Linked DNA regions of Homo sapiens: regions 2 and 3 are each linked to region 1. Evidence: fine-mapped expression QTL. A gene starts in region 1. Each other region holds a variant in brackets. All regions are shown on one strand. Distances are between the middles of the regions.

Region 1 (8,173 bases):
TTCAGGAAGGTGGGCCAGGGGACTTCTCCCGCTTCCTCCCACTGGGGACAACTGAGACCCTGGACATCACAGGTGAGACTCTCACGGGTGACAGAGGGCGGCTGTGGGACAGTGCAGGGGGAGCCCGGGGCTTTCTTTTCTGCTTGCCCTAGACCTAGCCCTGCAGAAGCTGGAACTGCCAACCAAAGCCAGCCCTCCCTAGCAGGACCAGGAAGGGCAGCCTAGCAACACAGAAACAGACTCCTGGCCGGGCGCGGTGGCTCACGCCTGTAATCCCAGCACTTTGGGAGGTCGAGGTGGGCAGATCACCTGAGGTCGGGAGTTTGAGACCAACCTGACCAATATGGTGAAACCCCATCTCTACTAAAAATACAAAAATTAGCCAGGCTGTAGTGACGCACGCCTGTTATCCCAGCTACTCAGGAGGCTGAGGCGGGAAAATCGCTTGAACCTGGGAGGCGGAGGTTGCACTGAGCCGAGATGGCACCACTGCACTCCAGCCTTACTCCAGCCTGGCAACAGAGGGAGACCCTTTCTCAAAAAAAAAAAAAAAGAAAAGAAAAAAAGAAACAGATCCCTCCCACACTCCAGGCTGGAACAGTGCCCCGCCCCCTTTCCCTCCCTGAAGGAGTGGGGACTTTCACCTCCCCAGGAGTCATTGGAGAGCACACGGGAGACTGGACTCCCCTGACCTGCCGGCTCTTGTCAGAGGCCAAGCAGACACTCAGGAATTCCTGAGGGCCTGGTGGGGATGGGACAGCGTTGGTGGGGAGGGGAACCTGGACTTCTGCCTCCTTATCTTGAGCCAGCACCCCCTCCTCCACCAGCGCGCTATCAAAAACCAGCTCAAACGTAAGGTTTAAAGAAGACCAGAGTCTCTGAACGTTACAAGAAAATGGACACGTTTCCATAAATATCACTGTTGGTGAGCCTCAGTGGCTCACACCTACGATCCCAGCACTTTGGGAGGCCGAAGCAGGCAGATCACTTGAGGTCAGGAGTTTAAGACCAGCCTGGCCAATATGGCAAAACCCCGTCTCCACTAAAAGTACAAAAATTAGCCAGGTGTGGTGGCGCACACCTGTAGTCCCAGCTACTCGAGAGGCTGAGGCAGGAGAATCGGTTGAACCCGGGAAGCGGAGGTTGCAGTGAGCCGAGATCACGCCATTGCACTCCAGCCTGGGTGTCGCAGTGACAGTCTGTCTCAAAAAAATAAATATAAAAGTAATACAAATAAATATAAAAATATAAATATAAAATAAATAAATATAAAAAATAAAAATAAAAGGCCAGACGCGGTGGCTCACACCTGTAATCCCAGCACTTTGGGAGGCTGAGGTGGGCAGATCACGAGGTCAGGAGCTTCAGACCAGCCTGGCTAACACGGTGAAACCCCATCTCTACTAAAAATACAAAAATTAGCCAAGTGTGGTGGCACGTGCATGTAGTCCCAAATACTCAGAAGACTAAGGCAGGAGAATTGCTTGAACCCAGGAGGCGGAGGTTACAGTGAGCCAAGATTGTGCCACTGCACTCCAGCCTGGGTGACAGAGCAAGACTCTGTCTCAAAAAAAAAAAAAAAAAAAAAAAAAATAGCAGAAGAGAAAATCCAGAAATAGACCCACACAAACATGCCCAGCTGATTTTTTTTTTTACAAAAGTGCAAAAGCAATTCAATAGAGGAAGGATAGCCTTTCTGGGCTAACTGGACAACCTTGGATCACAGACTTAAATATAAAAGGCAATCCTGTACAACTTGGAGGAAAGCAGACAATCTTCAGGACATAGGGCTAAGCAAAGAGGTCTTAGACTTGACATCAACATTGATACACTGAACTTCTTTAAAATGAAAAACTGGCTCTTTGTTAAGAGGACAAAAAGATTAGCTAGTTTGGGAGACAATACCTGCAAACCACATGTCCAACAGGAGACTAATATCTAGAATACATATTTTATTTTTTTTCAGTAGAGACGGGGGTTTCACCATGTTGGCCAAGCTGGTCTCAAACTCCTGACCTCAGGTGATCCGCCCACCTCAGCCTCCCCAAGTGCTGGGATTACAGGCTTGAGCCAGCGTGCCCAGCCTAGAATGTGTAATGAACTCTCCAAACTTATAGTAAAAAAGCAAACCATCCAGTTCGAGCGTGGACACAGAATATGAAGAGAGATTTCACCAAGAAAACCCACAGATGGCAAATAAGCACAAAGAAAGATGCTCCACGTCACTGGCCAACAGGGAAACGCGAATGAGGACCACAGCACCCTGCCAGCACATCCCTACCAGGACGCGGCTAAAATGAAAAACAGCAACTCCACCAAATGCTGGTGAGGATGCGGAAAATCTGCATCACCGTAGGGATGCAAAATGGCCCAGCCACTCTGAAAAACAATTAGACAGTTTCTTTAAAAAAAAAAAGTATATATATAATATATATATGTATATATACACACACATACATCTATATAGGTGTATACATATACACACACATATATCTATACAGGTGTATATATATATACACACACACAAACATACATATATACATAGAAAGAGAGAGAGAGACAGAGAGGCATATATATATATCTACCATCTGACCCAGCAACCGCACTCCTGGGCATTTATCCCAGAAGAATGGAAATGTATGTTCACACAAAAACCTGTATACAACATTTTATGGCAGCTTTATTGGTAAGGGAAACACAAAAAAATTAGCCAGTCGTGGTGGCGGCTTCTGGAAAGAAAAGAAAGAAAGAAAGAAAACGTTAGATGCTCTTTGCGGGGTGAGGCCTTGGCTAGAGAGAGGGTGGTCCATGGATTCCACGGACTGGCTCAGCAACAGAGGGGCAAAGCACTGATACAATCCCGGGGCACGTCCACATTCTATGCTGAATGAAATAAGCCAAACTCAAAAGATACTGGGTGGGCCACATAACTGCGATTCCAGTTTCAGAACATTTTGAAATGACGTTACAGAAATGAGTGGTCAGTGGCGGCCAGGTAACCCCGGCGCGAGGGGAGGGGCGGGGCTGTGAACGCACAGGTGCGGACCGGCCTCCCCGGCACGGATGTGGGCCTGCGGGCCCCCCATTACCGCTCCTTGGAGGTTACCGCTGGGAGAAACGGGGCGAGGGAGGGACACAGGGTCTCGGGCTGGGGGAGCAGTGGCGCGATTTCCGCTCACTGCAGCCTCGACCTCCCGGGCTCTGGCCATCCTCCCGCCTCAGCCTCCCGAGTAGCTGGAGCCACAAACGCGCACCACCACGGCGGATTCTTACGATTCATGGGAATCGATGATTGATGATTTCGATAGTTCGGTAATCGCTAATGGGCAGGCGCCGGGCGACCCTGCAGGGGCGGCAGCCGTCGCGGGGGAACGGGTGGCGCCGAGCTTGTCACGCGAAGGAGCGCGCGGCCCCGCCCGACCACCGCCGCGCCCCTCCCTGAGCCTCAGTTTCCCCGTCTGTCGAGGCCCTGGGAGGGCAGGACGGAGCGCGCCGCCGAATCAGCGCGCGACCCCCGCGTACCCGGCCTCGCTCCCGGCCATCCCCGTCCCAGGCCGGCCCGCGGCACTCACAGTACTTGATGACCGCGATGTTGACCGGCGCTGTACAAGTGACTGCCGCCAGCGGCTTCTCCGAGGCCATGGTCCCACCGCGCAGTGACCCCAGCTCCACAGCCACTTACGGCCCGCGATCCCACCCCAGAGGCCTCTGCCTCCTCACGCGCTACCACAGGATTGGCCCGTGCGAGCCCGGCTGCTCGCGCGCCGACCAATCAGCGGCGAGTCGGGCGCACGCATTACCTCTCAGCCAATGGACGGGATCGGACGATGGGTTGCTGACGTAGGTCCGCCCCACCCGCAGGGTGCGCTCGCCAGGCCTGGGGCGTGGTGTTGTCTGCGCAGGCGCCGTGTGCCCAGGCGCCTGGCGTCCGCGTCGGCGATCCGGGGTCTGGGCGCGGCGAGGTGGGCGCTGTTGCCTGTGGGGGCTACCTGTCTGCTGGTGCTGTGCGGGCTTGTGCGGGGCTGTGCGGCAGCTGTGTGGGGCCCGTGAGGAGCTGTGCGGGGGGCTGTGCGAAGGGCTGTGTGAGGCGCTGTGCTGGGGGCTGTGCGGAGACCTTGAGGCGCTGTGCGGGGTCCGTGAGGCTCTGTGTGGGGCGCCGTGTGGGAGACTCTGCGGGGGCCGTAAAGGGTCCGTGAGGCGCTGTGTGCGGGTTGTGAGGCGCTGTGCGGGGACCATGAAGGGGCCGTGGGGCGCTGTGCGGGTGCCGTGGGGCGCTGTGTGGGAGGGAGGCTGTGCGGGGCCGTGGGACGGTGTGCGGGGCTGAGGGGAGGGCGGGTCGCGCTGTGCCCTCCTTGAAGCTCTTGGACGGCCCCGCTGGGTATGGGGGTGCACACAGGCCCGAGGGCAGGCGCTGGAGGATGTATCCCGGGATCCACTCTTAACCCGGCAGCCGAAGGCACCCTGTCCCGCCGCCCACAGCCTTCTCCGCGCCATGTCCTGGGCCAGGATCCCCCGCCACGGGGCTCACACGAAAGACCCCGGGGCGGGGAAGCCCCGCAGCCCGGAGCTGGGTCCAACCTGCATTAAGGTGGGCGTCTCAAATACCCCCTGTAAGGCCCTGTAGGAGCAAAGCCTTGGACTGGGTTGCGGCGCTTGTGTGTGCATTGACTTCTCCTGTGAAACGTACAGGAACATTTAAGCGTGCCGTTCCCTGCCATTCATTCCAATCATGTGCCACGCCCCCACTATTTCTAGAGTTTTCTCACCCCAAACAGAAACTCTGTCCCCTTAAAACAATGACTTCCCATTTTCCCCTTCCCCTTTTAAAATTTTACCTTTAGTTTTTAAATAGCTCAGATTGGCTGGGCATGGTGGCTCACACCTGTAATCCCAGCACTTTGGGAGGCCGAGGTGGGCGGATCACGAGGTCAGGAGTTTGAGACCAGCCTGGCCAACATGGTGAAACCCTGTCTCTACTAAAAATACAATAATTAGGTGGGCGTGTGGTGCACGCCTGTAATCCCAGCTACTGGGGAGGCTGAGGCAGGACAATTGCTTGAACTCAGGAGGCGGAAGTTGCAGTGAGCCGAGATGGTGCTGCTGTACTCCAGCCAGGGTGACAGAGCAAGACTCCATCTCAAAAAAAAAAAAAAAAAAAAAAAAAACTCAGATTTCGGAAAATAGGGGAGTATGCAGTGTGAAGTGTCCACTCTGCCTAGCCACCTACTTCTATTACCAGAACCATCATACTTATAAATTCTTTATTTTTTTCCAGAAATAGAAAAAAAGTCTGTTTTTTTTCTCACTCTGTTGCTCAGGCTGGAGGGCAGTGGTACGATCAAAGCTCCATGCAGCCTCGACCTCCTGGCTCAAGGGATCTTCCCACCTCAGTTTCCTCAGTAGTTGGGACTACAGGTACACACCACCATGCCCGGCTAATTTTTTTCTTAATTTTTTTGTAGAGATGTGGGGGGGTCTTGCTATGTTGCCCAGGCTGATTTGAAGTCCTGGCCTCAGGGAACCCTCCCATCTCAGTCTTCCAAAGTACTGGGATTAGGTGTGAGCCACTCCACCTGGCCTGTCAATTCTTTGTGTATTTTTTCATTGACGTGCATAGTACAAGCACATAGCGTGTTCTCCCACCTTGCTTTTTCTACGTACCTTCTTCTTAGAGATCATCCCAATTTAGTAAAAAGCTTCCTTGTTTGTTGTCTAAATATACCTGGTCTGTCCTAGTTGGGTTGTTACTATAAACAGTGCTTTCCTACGTTGTTTGTGCACATGTATTTCTGCAGGAGAAATTCCTGGAAGTGGAATTGCTGGGCCAAGTGGGATGTGCCTGAGTACTTTTGATAGCTGTTGGCAAGTCGCCCTTTGTGGAAGTCAATTGATTACTCAGGTCTCTCTGCGGAAGTCTGAGAGTGCCTGCATGCCTTCACCAGCACAGTGGGTCACCTGCCAGAGTGACATGTGTTGTCTCACTGTTTTCAATTTGCATTTCAGATGGTGGTTATTTTTAATTTCTCTTGCAATCACAGCTGCTTTTCCATTTTATGCAAAGCCACTAAATCCTATTGAAGAGCTGATGTGGACTGTCTCGGCCTATAGTCAGGGTGTATTCCCTCAGCTACTCAGAGAGAGTGGGGCTTCCAGTCACCTCCTTCCTTCTGCCACGGCTGTGATGAAAAAGAAGACACAGGCTTGGTGCTTTGGGAGGCCAAGGAGGGCAGATTGTTTAAGTCCAGTAGAAAAAAAAACAATTTATTTTTGTTTAGAGACAGGGTCTCACTCTGTTGTCCAGGCTGGAGTGCGATGGCACCATCAGCTCACAGCAGCCTCAACCTCCTGGGCTCAGGTGATCCTCCCACTTCAGCCTCCCAAGTAGCTGTGATAAGTGCCACCACTCCTGACTAATTTTTATTTTTTATTTTGTAGAGATGGAGGTCTTACTGTGTTGCCCAGGCTGCTCTTTTTTTTTTTTTTAGACAGAGTCTCGCTGTGTCACCCAGGCTGGAGTGCAGGGGGGCAATCATAGCTCACTGCAACTTCTGCCTCCTGGTTTCAAGTGATTCTCATGCCTCAGCCTCCCAAGTAGCTGGGATTACAAGCGTGCACCAGCAGGCCCGGCAAATTTTTGTATTTTTAGTAGAGACGGGGTTTCGCCATGTTTGGCCAGGCTGGTCTCAGACTCCTTGCCTCAAGTGATACGCCTGCCTCGGCCTCCCAAAGCACTGGGATTACAGGCGTGAGCCACCATGCCTGGCGTTTTTATTATTATTATTTTTTTTTTTTTTTTTGAGACAGAGTCTCGGTCTGTCACCCAGGCTGGAGTGCAGTGGCGTGATCTCGGCTCACTGCAACCTCCGCCTCCCACGTTCACGCCATTCTCCTGCCTCAGCCTCCCAAGTAGCTGGGACTACAGGCGCCCACCACCACGACCGGCTACTTTTTTTTGTTATTTTTAGTAGAGACGGGGTTTCACTGTGTTAGCCAGGATGGTCTCGATCTCCTGACCTTGTGATCCGCCCGCCTCAGCCTCCCAAAGTGCTGCGATTGCAGGCGTGAGCCACTGTGCCTGGCCCTATTTTTTTAAGTTTTAGATAACCTCTATTGATTATGACTCAATAGAAATAAGGAATTCTCTTCCATCTCCCAGTCACATACCTTCTTATCCTATCCCTCCATCAGCATTCCTTATTTTCATTATTACAATTATCTAAGTTATACTCACAGTTGAGCCATGTAGCAATGGGTGCCGACAGTGTGCTTGTGGGCAGACTCCCTTATTGAGTGGAGAACTAGGATAAACTACCTCCCTGAAAGATGTCACACATCGATCCCCACCCTGACGCCTGTAGCCCAGCTCTCCTGAACCTCAGCCTGTATGTGTGTCGAAAATAGGCCAAGCATGGTGGTCCATGCCTGTAAGCCCAGCAGCACTTTGGGATTTGGGAGGACTGCTTGAGGCCTGGAGTTCAAGACCAGTCTGGGCAACATAGCGAGACTCCACCATATCCACAAAAAAAAAATTTTTTTTTTTTTTTTTTTTAAGACACAGTCTTGTTCCATTGCCCAGGCTGGAGTGCAGTGGTGCAATCTCGGCTCACTGCAACCTCCGCCTCCCAGGCTCACTGCAACGTCCGCCTCCCAGGCTCACTGCAACCTCCGCCTCCCAGGCTCAAGTGATTCTCCTGCCTCAGCCTCCCAAGTAGTTGGGACTCCAGGTGTGTACCACCACACCCAGCTAATTTTTTTGTATTTTTAGTAGAGACGGGGTTTCACCATGTTAGCCAGGATGGTCATGGTCTCGATCTCCTGACCTCGTGATCCACCCGCCTAGGCCTCCCAAAGTGCTGGGATTACAGACATGAGCCACCGCATCCAGCCTACAAAAAAATTTTTTCAAAATTAGCTGGCCGTAGTGGTGCACACCTGTACTCCCAGCTACTAGAGAGGCTAAAGCAGGATGATCGCTTGAGCCCAGGAGTTCAAAGCTTCAGTGAGCTCTGATCACACCACCGCACCTGAGCCACAGGCATGGGTGCTTTGCTGAGTATGGTATGGGTAGGCTGTGTGTGGCACTGATTCATGAGGGGAGAGGGTCTGGGAGATGAATGGGAAGCCAGACAGCTGGAGCCCGTGGGTGGGCCCTGACTGGTGTTGGGGCAAGGAG
Region 2 (8,173 bases), 100 kb before region 1:
TTTGTTTTAAGTAGAGACAGGGTTTCGCCATGTTGGCCAGGCTGGTCTTGAACTCTTGACCTCAAGTGATCTGCCTGCCTCAGCCTCCCAAAGTGCTGGGATTACAGGCATGAGCCATTGCACCCGGCCCCCATCCCAGTGTGTTACCATAAACTTTTAGCAGAATTTCCGCTTAATTCCCAGCATTTTCAGCTCCAAGTCTTAACACTTCCCCTCTGTCTTAATGTGGCTCCAGTGGCCCTTCGTCTCTCCCCTGCCCCTTCCATGCCTCCCGCCCCATCCCCACCCCCTCTGCCCACCCCCTGGCTCCTCTCCACCCCCAGCCCCTCCACAGCTCTTTGTCTCCACCTCTAAGACTGGGGCTCCTGGAAGCCACTGGTCCTCATCTTATTATCATCCTGGTCTCCACGGAGCCCAGGACGGAGACTCACACAGCTCAGTGGAGCGTCGCCAAGCTCGGAGGGCACGCAGCACCCTAGCAGCACCTGCAATGGCACCTGTGCTCTCTCTCGGGAGGAGATGATGGCCCCAGCTCAGGGCCCAGAATTCGCGCCTGACTGTGCCCCCTTCCGGACCTAAGGACCGCCCTCTGCTGTGCTGGGACTGCCTATGTCTAGACAGAGCGGGGCTCACTCCCCGACCCAAAGGGTTCCCCAGAGTGTGGCCCCATCTCCAAGGCCCTGCTGCCCCCACTGAAAACCCGCCCAGCCCATGGTGAGCACCGCAGAATTCACAAGGCGCTTCCTGCAGACACTTTCTCCCAAGCGGGCCATGCCTTCATTGCTACTCAGATCTCCCTAAAGCCACTGATGTGGTTTGGCTCTGTGTCCCCATCCAGATCTCATGTCGAATTGTCATTCCCAAGGTTAGGGGAGGGGCCTGGTGGGAGGTGACTGGATCACGGGGGTGGATTTCCCCCTCACTATTCTCAGATAGTGAGTTCTCACGAGATCTGATGGTTTTAAACTATGCGGCACTTCCCCCGCCCCCCACTTTCTCTCTCTCTCTCCTGCCGCCATGTGAGGACGTGCCTGCTTCCCCTTCACCTTCCACCATGATTGTGAGTTTCCTGAGGACTCCCAGCCATGCTTCCTACACAGCCTGTGGAACTGTGAGCCAATTAAACCTCTTTCTTCATAAATGACCCAGTCTCCAGTAGTTCTTTAGAGCAGTGTGAGCCTGGACTCACACAGTCACCCATTTCCGGGACCTTTACCACCAGGCCAGGCAGCCACCAGTCACTTTACACACAGCATCTCGTTTCCTAGCACCTGGGCGAAAGTGCTGTTTTCAGCTCTACTTACAGGCAAGGATGGAAAACCCAGAGGGTTCAGCCAGCCTCACCTGCTCGGGAGGGCACAGCTGGGCCGCCTGTACTGCCTTAGAAGGAGAAAAAGAGAAATGGAAACAGGCTCCACGCTGGGGGCCACTATTCTTACCTCACCATAACCTCACAAGGACTGAGCACACCACGGGGGCTCAGAAACCAGGGTCCCCGCTCAGAAACTGGTCCCCTCACTCACACGTGATGTGGCCACTGAAAATGGCTGGGTGCCCTGGCCGGGCGTGGTGGCTCAAGCCTGTAATCCCAGCACTTTGGGAGGCCGAGGCGGGCAGATCACAAGGTCAGGAGATCGAAACCATCCTGGCTAACACAGTGAAACCCTGTCTCCACTAAAAATACAAAAAATTAGCTGGGCGTGGTGGCAGGCGCCTGTAGTCCCAGCTACTTGGGAGGCTGAGGTAGGAGAATGGCGTGAACCCGGGAGGCGGAGCTTGCAGTGAGCCGAGATCACACCACTGCACTCCAGCCTGGGTCACAGGCAAGACTCCGTCTCAAAAAAAAAAAAGACATCCATGTCCCTAACCCTAACCCTGTGAACGTGACTGTATGTGGAAGAATGGAAGAAAGGTCTTTGCAGACATGATTGAGTTAAAGATGGAGAGAAAGAAGGCATCTGGACAGACCCGACGTGATCATGAGTTCTCCTGAGAGGGAGGCAGAGGGAGATTGGACACAGATGGAAGAGGAGAGGCGTGGGACCACAGAGGCAGAGCAGGAGCTATGCAGCCTCAAGGCACGGGAGCCACGGATGCCTGAGGCCTGGGAACCTGGAAGAGGCCGTGGGGAGCCTTCCCTGCAGCCTGCAGCCCTGCCCGTGCCTCGAGTTCCACTTCATGACTCTGCTATCAGACATCTGGCCTACGGAACTGTGAGGCGATATGTTTCTGAGTGTTTTTGTTGTCACTATTGTTGTCGTTTGAGACAGTGGTGCAATCACGGCTCACTGTAGCCTCGACCTCCTGGGCTGAAGCAAGCCTCCCACCTCAGCCTCCAGAGTAGCTGGAACTACAGGCGTGCACCATCTTTTTTTAGAGATGGGGGTATCACTATGCTGCCCAGCCAGGACTTGAACTCCTGGCTTCAAGCAATCCTCCCGCTTCAGCCTCCCAAGTGCTGGGATTGCAGGTGTAGCCACTGTGCCCAGCCAGCTTCTGTGGCTTTAAGCCGCCCATTGGTGTCACTTGTTACAGCAGACCCAGGACAAGCCACTCAGCTGAATGAGTTTAGAGTCTGATTTTACCCTTTCTGGGCCAGGAATGCCCTGCGGGGCAGGCGGCTGCAGCTGAGCCTTCTAGACCTCTCTCTACTGAAAATACATAAAAGGCGGAGGTTCAAGTGAGCAGAGATCGTGCCACTGCACTCCAGCTCTCCATCTCAAAAAAAAAAAAGAAAAGAAAAACCAAAGTAGCCATTGAGTAAAAAGGGAAATGACAAAAGAGTCTCGCTCTGTCGCCCAGGCTGGAGTGCAGTGGCGCGATCTCAGCTCACTGCAACCTCTGCCTCCTGGGTTCAAGCGTTCATCCTGCCGCAGCCTCCCCAGCAGATGGGATTAGGAGTTAAAGATGTGCGGTGAGTCCCGCGTCCCCCCATGCTCCGGGGGTGTGAGTCGCGCATCCCCCCGTCGGGGGGTGAGTCGCCCGTCCCCCCGTGCTCCGGGGGGGTGAGTCCCGCGTCCCCCCGTGCTCCGGGGGGGTGAGTCCCGCGTCCCCCCGTGCTCCGGGGGGGTGAGTCCCGCGTCCCCCGGTGCTCCGGGGGGGTGAGTCCCGCGTTCCCCCCGTGCTCTGGGGGTGTGAGTCCTGCGTCCTCCCGTTCCCTGGGGGTGTGAGTCAGGCATCCTCCCGTTCCCTGGTGGTGTGAGTCCCGCATCCTCCCGTTCCCTGGGGGTGTGAGTCCCGCATCCCCCCATGCTCCAGGGGTGTGAGTCCCATGTCCCCCTGTACTCTGGGGGTGTGAGTCCTGCATCCTCCCATTCTCTGGGGGTGTGAGTCCCGCGTCTCCCATGGACCAGCGCTGTAAGTCCCATGCCCTCCTGTGCTATGGTGGTGTGAGTCCCGTGTCCTCCCATTCTCTGGGGGTGTGAGTCCCCTGTCTTCCCGTTCTCTGGGAGTGTGAGTCCCATGCCCTCCCGTGCTCCGGTGCTGTGAGTCCCGCGTCCCCTCAAGCTCCGGAGCTGTGAGTCCCGTGCCCTCCTGTGCCTGGTCGTGCAATGTTGAGTTCGGCACTGAAACTCTCTGAGCTTCATTTTTTACCATCAGCACCCTGCTTCCCAGCGCCTTTGGGAGGAGCAAAGGAGAAAGTCGGGCCCAAGGCCCCAGCAAGAGGCCAGCCCTTGACAGCTGTTAGCTGGACTTTGCTTCCGTCCTGAAACAATACAACTTCTGAACCACACGGAGCGCTGTTGGCCAGAAACTCAGAATCGGATGGGTCCCCATATCTGTGTTTTAAAAGTCACTCCAGACTTCTCCAGGGCACAGCCCTGTGCTTCCGGGGCCTGCAGGCTGGGGGGAGGGGAGGAGAGGTGGGCTGCTGGG[G/T]ACACTCACAGGCACCTTGACTCCCCTGGGCCCCCTGGTGTTCCCTGCCCTTTTTTTTTTTTTTTTTTTTTTTTTGGAGACGGAGTCTCGCTCTGTCGCCCAGGCTGGAGTGCAGTGGCACTATCTGGGCTCACTGCAAGCTCCGCCTCCTGGGTTCACGCCATTCTCCTGCCTCAGCCTCCTGAGTAGCTGGGACTACAGGCGCCCACCACCACGCCTGGCTAATTTTTTGTATTTTTAGTAGACACGGGTTTTCACCATGTTAGCCCGGATGGTCTCAATCTCCTGACCTCGTGATCCACCCACCTCGGCCTCCGAAAGTGCTGGGATTACAGGCATGAGCCACCATGCCCGGCTCCCTGCCTTTTCTTTCTTTCTTTCCCCTTCCTGTCTTTTTTTTATTGAGTGAAATTCACATAACATAAAATTAACCATTCTGGGCTGGGTGCTGTGGCTCATGCCTTGTAATCCCAGCACTTTGGGAGGCCAAAGTGGGCAGATCACCTGAGGTCAGAAGTTCGAGATCAGCCTGGCCAACCTGGTGAAACCCGATCTCTACTAAAAATACGAAAAATTAACCTGGCATGGTGGCAGGCGCATGTAATTCCAGCTACTCAGGAGGCTGAGGCATGAGAATCACTTCAACTGGGAGGCAGAGGTTGCCGTGAGCCGAGGTCCCACCACTGCACTCCAGGTTCGGCCACACAGTGAGTCTCCATCTCAAAAAAAAAAAGAAGAAGAAGGAGAAGAAAAAGAATTTTTCAGCATCCCAGAGGCCCCTGGCCTCCCAGCCACTGTCCCTCCCTTCCTGGAGGCCAGCCACCATTGTGATGAAGAGAACCCCGTCTCTCCCTCAACATGCACCCCAAAACACCATCCTCTATGTTGCCTGTTTGTGATCCACACAGAATTCCACAGAATTGAGCCTGGCCACTTCTGCTCAATGTGATTGAGAGAGGCTTCCTTGCTGCGCATAACTGCAATTCGCCTGTCTCCACTGCCGCGGAAGGGCCCGGCGACGGGATAGACCATGATTCGCCCGTCTCCACGGCCACGGAAGGGCCCGGCGATGAGATAGACTGCAATACATTTTCCCATGAAGCTGTTGATCGGCTCCTGGGCTGTTTCTGGTTTGGAGGGTGTCATGAATGAGGCTGGCATGAGCACATGAGTTCTGGCTGAGTAGTATTTTCAGCAGCTTGGCCAAAAGGTATGACTTTTCAGGACCTGGCTGAAGGAGGGACTCCAGAGAAAAGGGCTGATGGGCGGGAAAGCGCTGGCAGAGGGGATGGCCAAGCCACAGCTGGCAGGCTATGGTTCCCAGAGCCCCAATCAACACACCTCAGCTCCCAACTGGGGCTACCTGGAACGACAGGAAAGGCTGACTCCATGAGCTGTCATGGCGTGGAAGACCCAGTTGTGCCCAATGGACGCAAGCTCCCTCCATTTCTGGCCATCCCCTGCTGATTCCCTCCCACCCCCACCTCCAGCCCGACCCCGCCTTCTCCACCAGGTGCCCTCCCATGAATTCAGCTCCATGGACAGCTCCCAGGCTGCTGTCCTCCATGTGGTGCTGAAATCACCCCAACAGAGAAGCCAAGACATGGAGAAGCTAAGGAAGAAAATGGAATGAAATGGCATGGGATGGAGCTACAGAGCCATCAGTCCTGAACCCGCCACCACGTAGAAGTGGAGGCAGGGGTCCAGAGAGGGAAGTCTTTTGCCTAAAGGGGTCATGAAGTGCTCGGTGGTAATAAATGGAATCGTCTACGACGACCGAGATTTACAGAACCCTGTCTGCATGCCAGGCACCACGCTGAGTGTTCGTATGTGGACCGCCACCGTCAACCCACACGGCAAGCTCAAGAGTAGGGCCCTACGATTGTACCTGCTCAACAGAGGAGAAGCCTCATCGGTGAGCAGCAGAGCTGGGCCTGGAACCTGTGTCTTCAGCCCTACCCCGGGCCTTTCCTCCCCTTGCCCTTGGTCTCAGTGGGTCCACTGTTTCTCTAGAACCAGAAAATGACAGTCACAGCAGCGTTGACGTCACCCCCAGTATATGAGTCAGGGTTCTCTAGAGGGACAGCACTAATAGGACAGATGTATACATGGAGGGGAGTTTACTGGGAGTATTGACTCACATGATCACCAGGTGAAGTCCCACAATAGGCCGTCTGCAAGCTGAGGAGCCAGGAAGCCAGTCCGAGTCCCAAATTCCAGGCGGTGAAATGGCAGCTGAACTGACATTCATTCATTCATTCATTCATCAATCAATCATTCATTCACCCCCACCAGCCTGCAGAGGTCCTACGGTGCCAGGCCCTGGGGCTGCAGAAACAACAGAAAAGCCCCCAGCCTCAAGCTCAGCTGCGCCGGGAATCCTTTCCCCGGCCTCCTTGGGGTGTCTGAGACCTCGTCAAAGAGTTGGGGGCCCATGGACATCTCGAGGGAAAGGCAGGGGGCCAGATGGGGTCAGAGCCAGCATCCCTCCAGAGGCTGGGACAGGGACTGGAGTGGACTCACTGTGTCTGTGGTGGGGGCCATGATGGAAGTGGGGGTCCCACACAGAACAGACAGGGCTTCCTGCAGGTTTCACCTGCAGTCCAGGGCCTGGGACCACCCCCACCCCCCCATCCCCCATCCCCCACCCCCCCACCCCCCCACCCCTCTATCACCCTTCACCCCCCCATCCCCCCTTCCCCCCGGGAACAGCGGCTGGGCGGAGTGGGAGTGCCCTCTGGTGGCTCTTTGAGGAAATAGCAAGGGCTATCCTTCGTAAAATGCTTTCAGACAGAACCGCTGGTATGGCACTCGGCCTCCCGCTGAAGACATGGATACAGGCTGGACACACACGCTTCGCTGTGTGATACACGCATGTAACGGGGCCTGTGGGGAGTAACCAGCGCTGGTGGGGCCCGGGGCTATATCCCTTGAGCGAACATAAACAAGAAAGTGAGCCCACGTTCAGCCTGGTTTTCCTTGTGGGGCATCTTCCCACATTGGCGTGGAGGTCCAAAAACAGAAAGCACAGCCTTGCCGAGCTGAGAAACAGGGATTAGAGTTTGAGGCTCCAAACCTGCTGGGGCCTGAGGGAACTTGGAGAAAGAGCCCAAAGCCCTGAGTGCAAATCCCCTTCAGGCCGTGGCCGCCCCCTAAGCTGAATATGCCCCCAAGAAACTCCAAGAAACCCAACAGAAAAGGCTCCCGGGAGGATGGAGAGCTGAGCAGGGGTGTTGGCAGCTGCGACGGGCTGGAGACCAAGCCCTGTGGGGGGCGGGGGCTGGTGACCATCACAGGCTTTCCCTTGGGAGCACAGAAGTTCCACTCCCTGGGAACAAGGGCTGTAACCCCCAAAGCCAGTCTGGACAGGGCTAACCTGGGCGCGATGGCTCATGCCTGTAATCGCAGAGCAAAAAAAAAGAATAAGAAAAGTTACAAGGTGTCTTAGTCTGTTACCTGTTGCTATAGCTTAAGAGTGGGTAATTTATAGAGAAGAGAGGTTTGTTTCTTACAGTTCTGAAGGCTGGAGGTCCAAGAGCATGGCGCTGGGCAAGAGCACGCCAGCCCAAGTCTCTCTTTCTCTTCTTTTCTTTCAAGATGGAGTCTCGCTTTGTCACCCAGGCTGGAGTGCAGTGGCACCATCTTGGGTCACTGCAACCTCTGCCTCCTGTCTCAGCCTCTCAAGTAGCTGGGATTATAGGCACCTGCCACCACGCCCGGCTAATTTTTGTATTTTTAGTACAGACGGGGTTTTGTCATATTGGCCAGGCTGGTCTCCAACTCCTGACCTCGTGCTCCGCCCACCTCAGCCTCCCAAAGTGCTGGGATTACAGGCGTGGGCCACCGCGCCCGGCCCGTTTCTTTTGTTATGAGGCCACTAGTCCCATCATGGGGGCCCACTCTGATGACCTTATCCAATCCTAATTACCTCCAAAAGCATATAATTGTGGAGATTAAGTTCCCAACACATAAAGTCTAGGAGAAACATTCAAACCATAGCACAAGGCATGCTCTTAGAAGGGACCAGAAGCCGGGAGTGCATGCCTGTATTCCCAGGGACGAGGGAGGCTGAGGTGGGAGGATCACTTGAGCTCAGGGGGTTGAGGCTGCAGTGAGCCCTGTTCATGCCACTGCACTCCAGCTTGGGCAACAGAGTCAGACCTTGTCTCAAAAAAGAATAAAATAAAAATAAAAAAAGAAGAAGGGACCAGATCACCAGACATGGTGCTGATGCCCATAATCCCAGCACTTTAGGAGGCCAAGGTGGGAAAATCATTTGAGCGCAGGAGTTTGAGAC
Region 3 (8,173 bases), 32 kb after region 1:
TCCTGGTGCCCAGGCTGCAGGCTTGGCTGTGCTGCCCGTTAGAACAGTCCCTACCCACACCAACCGTAAGACACATGAAACTGCACAATGCCTCAGCACAGGCAAGGGAGAGTGACCGGTGCTGAGGGGAGCCCTTGGGCCTGCGGCAGATGAGGTGAGACTTGAGCCATCAAGCAGCGAGGCAGCGTGCGTGTGAGTCTGCAGGCCACAGGCGTGTTCGTGCGTGTGTCCATGGGCGTATGCGTGTGGGAAGTCGCAGTAGCTGCTCTGAGGTGACATGGAGGCTGGGCATCAGCGGGTAAGTCCCGGGCACCAGGAGAGGGATCTGTGGGGTCCCCGGCATCGTCCTGCCGAGTTGGATACCTGAGCTCGGTTCCAGCAACACCATCCGCTCTCTGCCAGGGTCCTTTGAGATTCCCACCTGCCGTGTGAGGGAGCTGACACCTTACTCGCGGCAGGCTGTGGGGCCACGCCCTGCAGCTGAGGGAAGGAAGAACTCAGGCCCGCTGAGTGTTCTTTTGTCCAGCCACAAAGGGAGCAATGCCTGCCGGACGAGGGGCTGGGGCCGCATCATGCCTGGGACCCGGATGAGCACTGTCCAGGGCTCCTGCGAACAGGGGCGGGCCTGGGACAGGGGGACCTGGGGTGGGAGACATAGGAGAGGGGACCCCTGGGGGAGAGGGACTTGGCATCCCTTCCGGATGCAGGCCAGCAGCAGGTTACACAGGCCCTTCGTAAAGGTGCTTTCTCTGTGGCCTGCGCCCTGGGTCACCCCATCAGCAGGGTCCTTGGAGCCCCAGTGCCTGCAGAAATGCCAGGGACAGCATTGACAGCGTGCTGACGGACAGCACCGTGGATTGAACTGTGTCCCCCTAAAAGATGCTGGGGTCCCCCCAACCTCTGGGCATGGGGCCTTATTGAAAATCGAGTCTTCACAGGTCCCATCAAGTCAAGGTCAGGCCATTAGGTGGGCCTTAATCCAAGGACTGGTGCTCTGATGAAAAGAGGAAGCTTGGATTCAGAGCGCAGGGGGAGGGTGACGTGCGGGTGCAGAGGAGTTGTGTGTTGACCACAGGAGCCAGCCAAGAAGCACCAGGCCGCTGCGGCCGCCCCCGGCCCCCACCCCTGCCCCATGGCACAGCCCGCCCACACCTGGGTACTAGACTTCCTCCTGAGCTGGCGACACTTAGACTCCTGTTGTGTTCGGCACCCCAGGGTGTGGCCCCTTGATACAGCGGCCCAGTAGACCCAGCGTCCAGACCGGGATGAGGCCACAGGCCCTGGCTTGCCCCTGATTCGAGGGACTCGTGGAAACAGGCCACTGCTGTCCATGCAGAACACACCCCAGTCCCCACAAACCCACAGCAGGTGCACTGAGGGTTCCGAGAAAAGCACCACGTGGGTGCCACTCCCGTTTCCTGGGGCTGGCGCCACAGCCGCTCCTCTCCAGAGACTCTGGGAAGCTCACACGGCAGACTCTGCAGGGGTTGCACTGGCCCCGGGTTCAGCATGCCATCCACCACTGGAAGAGCCCAAACCGCGGCCAAGACCAGGACTGCACGTCAGAGGGTCCGGGTGGGCTTCCAGCCAGGCTTCTACCTGCCGAGGCCCTGGCTCTGAGTGGGTGCCATGTGGAGTCTCCCCTTGCCCTGCAAAAATGTATCTCCAGCCAGCCACAGTGGCTCACGCCTGTAATCCCAGCACTTTGGGAGGCCAAGCTGGGCGGATTGCTTGAGGTCAGGAGTTCAAGACCAGCCTGGCCAACGTAGTGGAACCCTGCCCCTACTAAAGATACAAAAATTAGCCAGGTGTGATGGCGCGTGCCTGTAATCCCAGCTACTCGAGCGGCTGAGGCAGGAGAATTGCTTGAACCTGGGAGACTCCTTCTCAAAAGTATCTCTACTTGTGCCCGAGAGCCCACTGATAATTAGAGATGCATTCCTTAGGCTATTTTTGTCAAAATACCAAAGTGCCTTTGACATTGTGATGCCTTGCTGAGTGCATTTAGGCCTCTTTTTCCTAGAGTGAGTTTAGAGAGTGGCGAACCCTGGGGATGTGGTTATAGAAGGAAGGGCGGCGGAGGCAGCAACACCGGAGATGGCTTTTTCAGGCCATCCCTCGATGGGGCCGGGTCCTCCCAGGTGTTTCGGATCGGAGGAGGCTGACTGTAGCTGAGGGCACCCTCCCTTCCCACCTTCCTCCTCCCTGCATCACATCCTGGGCAGAGTTAGGGGTCCCCCATGGAGGCCTCTGGGGTTTTCCAGGTGGGCTGCCAAGTAGGTGCCCCGGCTGGACCACAGGGTGGAATGTCAGCCGGGTTTGCCTCTTGTTAGCAGGAGATTTGGGGCAGGTTTTCTGAATATCTGTTTTCATCCATGAAACAGGAAAAGTGGCTTCTGCTTCCTTCCCTAGGGCCTCAGGAGCCTAAACCCAGGTGGCCCCAAATTAGAGGAATCCTCAGGCACCACCCAGACGCACCCAGAGGATCCTGGGAGGGTCAGGCTGCTGCGGCAGGTGTGCTGGGCCCTGGGGTAGAGGAGTTGCAGCTGGGAGGCCCCTTATTGGAGGGAGCCCCCACCCCCTCCCCACCCCCGGCCACCGCGCACACCTGCAGTTCTGGAAAGGCCTGGGCTGAGTCTCGCGAACCACACCCTGCTGCCGCCGCCTTGGAGTACCCAAAATGCTGGTCGTGGCTCCTGAGATCCAGGTATAAGAATTATCAGCAGTTTCTTGGGGGCCCGGCCTGGGGCCAGGGGCTCTCCATTCCCACCTGACCCCTTTCTAATGGAGAAGTTCCCTGGTCCCTGAGACCTGGACGCGCTTTCTGGGGAGCAGGGTTCATGCTTCCCATGCAGCTGCATAACGTGAAAACAAGGGCATGCTGCCCCAAGTCTGCGACGGGCCTGGACCGCGCAGGGCAGGAGCCCCAGCTCCTCCAGGGCGAGCCACATCTGGCTTTGTGCCTCGCTGTCAGGCCCTGGTGTACTCCAGGGTGGGAGGGAGACCCAGGCTTCCAGGACTCTGCCTGAGCGCGGTGGGTCCACATCCGAGCTGCCGCGGCCCCGGTGGTCAGAGCGGGCGGCCCTCTGGCTCCGGCGCTGTGCACGCCCTCACACCCCGACGTGAGGGGCTTCGGCCCACTTCCCTCGTGTGGCCGTAGGAGGGGTCCCGGCCTCCCCACTTTCACTGGGACAGCCCCCACGGGTATCGGGGGTGCAGACATTTGGCTCTATCTAGGGCTTTGTTAACAAGAAAAATGGAGCAGGGGTCTTGCTCCGTGCCTGAGGTCTCGTCCCACCATGGCAGGATCTGCTGAGCTCTGACGGACCTGAGTTCCCCACTTTGCTGGGGTTCGTTCTGGAGTCCTCCCCTGGGCAGACTCTCCCAGACACCAGGTCACCCGAGAGGCGGCCGGGCCCGTGAGGAAAGCTGAGGCCGCACCTTCACCCAGACGCTGGCCTGTGGCTCTCAGCTCTCCTGTGGCCTCCATGAGGGGACCTGGTGGGAACAGGCCTGCTCCCTCCAGAATTGTGTGCAGGGACACAGAGAGTCCTGAGGAGGGGGTCCTGGGCTTCCTCTGACAGCCCTCCTGGGCACGGCAGCAGCGGGAGGCCTGGGTTCAACCAGGAGGGGACAGGGTTTTGCTTCCTCGGCATTCGCAGGTGGCACGGGGCTTGGGAGCAGGTGCTCGGCAGGGCTGAGAGTTCGGAGGTGGCCCAGGGTTTGGGAGCGGGGCAGGCCAAATGTGATGGGGACGGCTCCTTGTCTGGGCTCCGCTCTCTGTCCCCTCAGTCTGGGCACTGCTGGCTTGTAGGAGGCTTGTGGCTGCGGTTCAGTCAGGGAGGGAGGGCAGTCGCGTCGCCTGCGGCCAGCGGGACAAGCACACAGGGACAGGCTTCTGCCCCTTTCAGAGGCCGCAGTATGTTAAAACCGTTCCTATCCGTAGCATGAGCGTCAGTGGGCCCCCGGGGGGTCTTTCTCCTTCCCGCCCCGGGCCCAGTGCCTGCCCTGGCCTTGCTGAGTCCCCAGCACAGCGGTCACAGTGCGGTGCCAAGAGGGGGCCTCAGAGCTGAGGGTGACACAGAGCAGGGGGCCTCAGACCAGCCTAAGTCGGGATTCGTCCCCTGAGGCACCTGCCACGGAACTGGGGGCCTGGGGCAGAGCAGAGCAAGGGGAGGCAGTTCCCAGCCCCAGCCAGTCCATGCCTCCCACAACATGCCGGCTCCTCTCCCTTC[C/T]CCAGGGCAGTGAGGTGCCGCTCAGTGACTGGAAGGTGCTTTGCCCTCCTCAGGTGAGGCGTAGAGACTTAGGCATCACCTCCCCGAGGGCTGCTGTTGAGACCACGGCCTGCCCAGACAGGGCCCAGAGCTGTCTTCAGCCTTCCTGGGCACCCAGGGTCATGCCCTTGTGACGGCTCCGTGTCACCCTCGGGTCAGATGTGGAGGCGGCTTGGACGTGGAGAGCTGCCCCCGTCGCTGCTCCTGCTGGGAGGTGGGTGGCGGGTAGGCTGCCCAAGGGGTGAGACAGGCTTGGCCAGTGGCCAGGTGGCGAACTGTCGGCCTCACTGGGCACCAGTCAGAGGCCCACGTGGCTCCGGGGGACACTGTGTCTTGAGCCTCCTTCTGGAAGGCCACAGGGAAGGGCAGGCTGGCAGGTGTCTCTGATGTTCCCTGGAGTTTGGTGCTGCCTGGTGAGGGCCTCCCAGACACAGGACCATGTCATCAGGGGTCAAAGAGTAGTGGGAAGGGGAGGTGGGGACTCCAGTGGCCCTTGGCGAGGGCAACTGGAAATCAGCCCTGCTCCCTTGGGGGTGTCTCCCTTCAAGTGACAACTGGCAGAGGCTCCTGTGTGTCCGGCCCAAGCTGTGGCCTTCAGGGTCAGGACAGCCACCTCCCCTGCGAGTAAGGAATCCAGAACAGAGGCTGGAAACACTCCTTAACTGAGTGCGGGAGGGAGGAGGCAGGAGGCAGTGACTGAGCTATAATGACCAGCTGCCCTGGGGTTGGCTGGCGAACAGGTGATTCTTGTTGGCCTGAGGCCCTTGGACACTGGAGAACAGGACATCCCATGGCCCTGGTGGTGGCCCCTCAGAGAACTACAGGCAGTTAGTGTAACACTCAGTATGCTCAGAAACCAATCCAGGAGGTGCTGAGGTGGCGCACACCTGTAGTCCCAGTGACACGGGAGGTCAAGGCGAGTGGACCACTTGAGCCCAGGAGATCGAGGCTGTGGTGAGCTGATTGCACCACTGCACTCCAGCCTGGGCAGCAGAGTGACACCCCACCTCTAAGAAAAAGCAAGCAGCCTAGGAGTCCGAACCCCAGCAGCCCTGTGGGTGTGGGAACAGGGTGGTCCTCTCTGAGGCAGGAGGGCCCAGTGCCAATGTGTAGGTGGCTCTGTGGGACCCTCCGTGGCTGAGTGAGGCTCAGGCCCAGGCTGTACCCCCAGCGTGAGCTGCCTGGGGAGGACACAGCCGACCTCCAACACAGACAGCAGCTGGCGATTCCACACCGTGGAGCACAAAAGCCAGTCGAGGCTGCTAGAGATGCTCTGAGACATTTTATTTAAACTTTTTTTTTTAAAAAAAAGACAGCAATAATTAATGCCAAGAACAGAAAAGAATGTTGACGTGTTGCCCGGCCCGCCAAGCGGGCCCCTGCCCAGGCCCCCAAGCTCTGCCACCACTGGGGTGCCGTCCCCTCCCGCAGCGGGGCACAGTCAGCTTTGAAGGTGACAGCGGGCCAAGGCCAGGACTCTGGGTGGAGGAGGCCCCTTCTCTGCCGGCCCCGCCTCTGCTGGGAGCAGCCACAGCCTGTGGCTGGGGTGCTGGGATTTCTTCCTGGTCATCAAAGAGAAACGTACAAACCTCAAGGACCCAGACACACAGTGGGTGGCCAGGGCAGACCCCACAGCAGACCCCATGGCTCGCCTGAGCTCTGGCAGCTGCCCCACTGCTCCTTCCATCCTTGCCCCAATCCCCCAATGCTTGTTTTGATTGTTTTCTTAAAAAATATAATTTTGTAAATGTTCCATAAAAATACTATTATTCCTAGTCAAACACAGATATTGCAATATGAAGAGTAACTGCTCTGTCTTTGCTCTATAAAACGTGAAAAGATTATCACACTGGATAATATAGAAAAGATGCCAGGGTTCCTAAGTATCACAAAAGCCAGTACCAAATGCGCAAGGTGGAAGTGGGGCCGGGGCAGGGTCGGGCTGGGCAGGGCAGCAGCCTGGGTTCCTCCCGGCTCGACTGCGGAGCGCGACTCGCGCGTCGGTCCCTTCTTCCCACGAGGGGGTATCATGGCTTTGAAGAGACGGCGGCAGCTCCAGGTCCCAGCGTCCAGCCCTGCCCAAGTAGGCCGCCTGCTCGGCCAGAAGCACCGAAGAACCCAGCGACGCCGGTGGGACCAGGCGGCCCTGCTCTGGCGGCCTCGGCGGCTGGCCCGTATTCAGGCCCGGAGGCTCGGCCCCGGCTCCCCTTCTGCGCGGGTGCAGGCTCCTCCTGTGAGCTCAGTCCGGTGAGGTGCGCTCCCGAGCAGGTGCCAGGTGCGACACAGGAGCGGGGACATCCCTGACCCCAGACGCAGGCGGGTGGCTGCGCTTCCCTTCAGTTCTCAGAGAGAGACAGGGCCAGAGCAGCCTGGAAGGCGGCCTCCTCGTCAATACTGTAGTCCTGGAGACAGGAAGGAGAGATGCACCGGGCTCGAGGGAGACAGGAAGGAGAGGTCCCCTCTGCCCATCACCCACACAGGCGTGTCCACCCTTCCTGCCTCCCTCCAGCAGGACACAGGAAGGACCCAGCTCCACTGTCCCCACAGGCTCGGGGCCTGCACGGTCCTCTGGGGGGTGAGAAGGTGAAGGTGTGTCCATCACCCGCTGGGTACGGGGGCACTCGGAATGGATGGCTGCTGGTTCAGGTCGGACTCTAAGCCCGGGGTTTCCGAGGTGAGCAGGCCGGCCAGGGCTCCCTGACCTCTAACAATTTCCATCCTGAGGCAGGCGGAGCGTGGGTCCCGGACGACTGGCAGAGGGAGTGACAGCCATCGCCAGGACTGTTAGCCAGGGCCAGGAATGAACAGGGCGGCGCAGGGAGGGGCCGCACCAGGAGTGAGGAGTTTGTGCGAGGGTCTGCAGGCCCGGGGGCCAGGTGTGTGCCTGACCCGCGGCGGGTGGGAAAAGGAGACAGGGCTGGAGTGTTCGATGTTGATGAAAGTCCTTCCCGCGCTCTCTAGAAAGCTTCCAGAAGGAAGCCTGGCTCACCCTCGAGGGGTTCTGTGGGGTGGGCAGGCAGGGACCTGCCCTGTGCGGTCCATGTCCCCGAGAGGCCTGGGCACCCTCTAGTGGCCACTCAAACTCAGCTGCCATCACTCCCCACCTGCAGGCAGCCCCCACAGAACCTGGGGGAATGTGGCCACCTGAAACGAGGCTTCTGTTTCTGGCTTCCTCTGAACCCTGCGGACCCTGAGGCTGGCGAGGGGCCCGAGCAGGAGGAGGGTGGATGAGGAGGGCGTGGGGGAGGACGGTGCTGGCGGGATGCCTACCACAAAGGTGTCGTAGGAGAACTTGTGTCGGTGAAGCAGGTGCTGCAGGAAGTTGGCGCTCTTGTAGCTGGGGTCCCCCCAGGGCATTGCCGAGCAGATGGGGCACACCTGGAACAGGCACTGGGGTCAAGCCGAGCCGGACCGCGGAGAGGCGGGGTAGCCGCAGTAGGACTGGGGGCCCTCCACTGAGCCCCGTCAGTGCTGCCTCAGCCTGGGAAGGCACCCCAGACCTGGAGGCGCGTGTCCCGGTGACAAGCGAGTTATTCAGTGCGCGTCACCCTGAAGGACTCATGGACACTCCCCGGTTTCCGCCAGGTGCTGCTCGGGCAGCCAAGTTCCCACCCTGGGTCCCAGGAGGCCTTTGTGGCCTGGGCACCCCCGGACTCGCCGCGAGCAGGCTCCTGGGCCTTGTACTGTCCCCCACAGGCCTCCCCTGGCGCAGGCGTCGCTTGGGGCAGGCACTGCTCACCACGCGGTTGGGGTCGCTGCGGTGGCTTTCCACACAGTGCTTCACCAGCTCCTGCTGGTCCAGGTTGCGGGCACCACAGTACGGGCAGGCGAAGGTGGACCTGTTGGGGATGTTGCTGGCGGGGCGGGGGTAGAGTGAGTGGCACGGCTAGGTGTCTAGG

What was found.
Region 2: its variant is fine-mapped to the expression of MVD in whole blood (INTERVAL, PIP 0.97).
Region 3: its variant is fine-mapped to the expression of MVD in lung (TOPMed, PIP above 0.99).

Annotation. Positions count from the first base shown.
Region 1 is chr16:88,659,439-88,667,611 of GRCh38, forward strand. It overlaps MVD (mevalonate diphosphate decarboxylase), which reads right to left and starts at 3,653. Exons shown (of 10, transcript NM_002461.3): 1 at 3,573-3,653. The coding sequence starts at 3,642. It overlaps SNAI3-AS1 (SNAI3 antisense RNA 1), which reads left to right and starts at 3,935. Exons shown (of 4, transcript NR_024399.1): 1 at 3,935-3,962. RefSeq lists silencers at 3,398-3,817, 4,158-4,317 and an enhancer at 3,898-3,947.
Region 2 is chr16:88,555,487-88,563,659 of GRCh38, forward strand. It overlaps ZC3H18-DT (ZC3H18 divergent transcript), which reads right to left and starts at 6,497. Exons shown (of 3, transcript NR_146877.1): 1 at 6,018-6,497; 2 at 5,765-5,885; 3 at 4,617-5,239. The variant G/T (reference allele first, on the strand shown) is at 3,877.
Region 3 is chr16:88,690,958-88,699,130 of GRCh38, forward strand. RNF166 (ring finger protein 166) reads right to left here. Exons shown (of 6, transcript NM_178841.4): 4 at 8,014-8,128; 5 at 7,545-7,652; 6 at 5,544-6,676. The coding sequence ends at 6,611. Among named protein-coding and RNA genes, the nearest start is that of SNAI3, 8.5 kb to the left of the region's middle. RefSeq lists a silencer at 932-981. The variant C/T (reference allele first, on the strand shown) is at 4,236.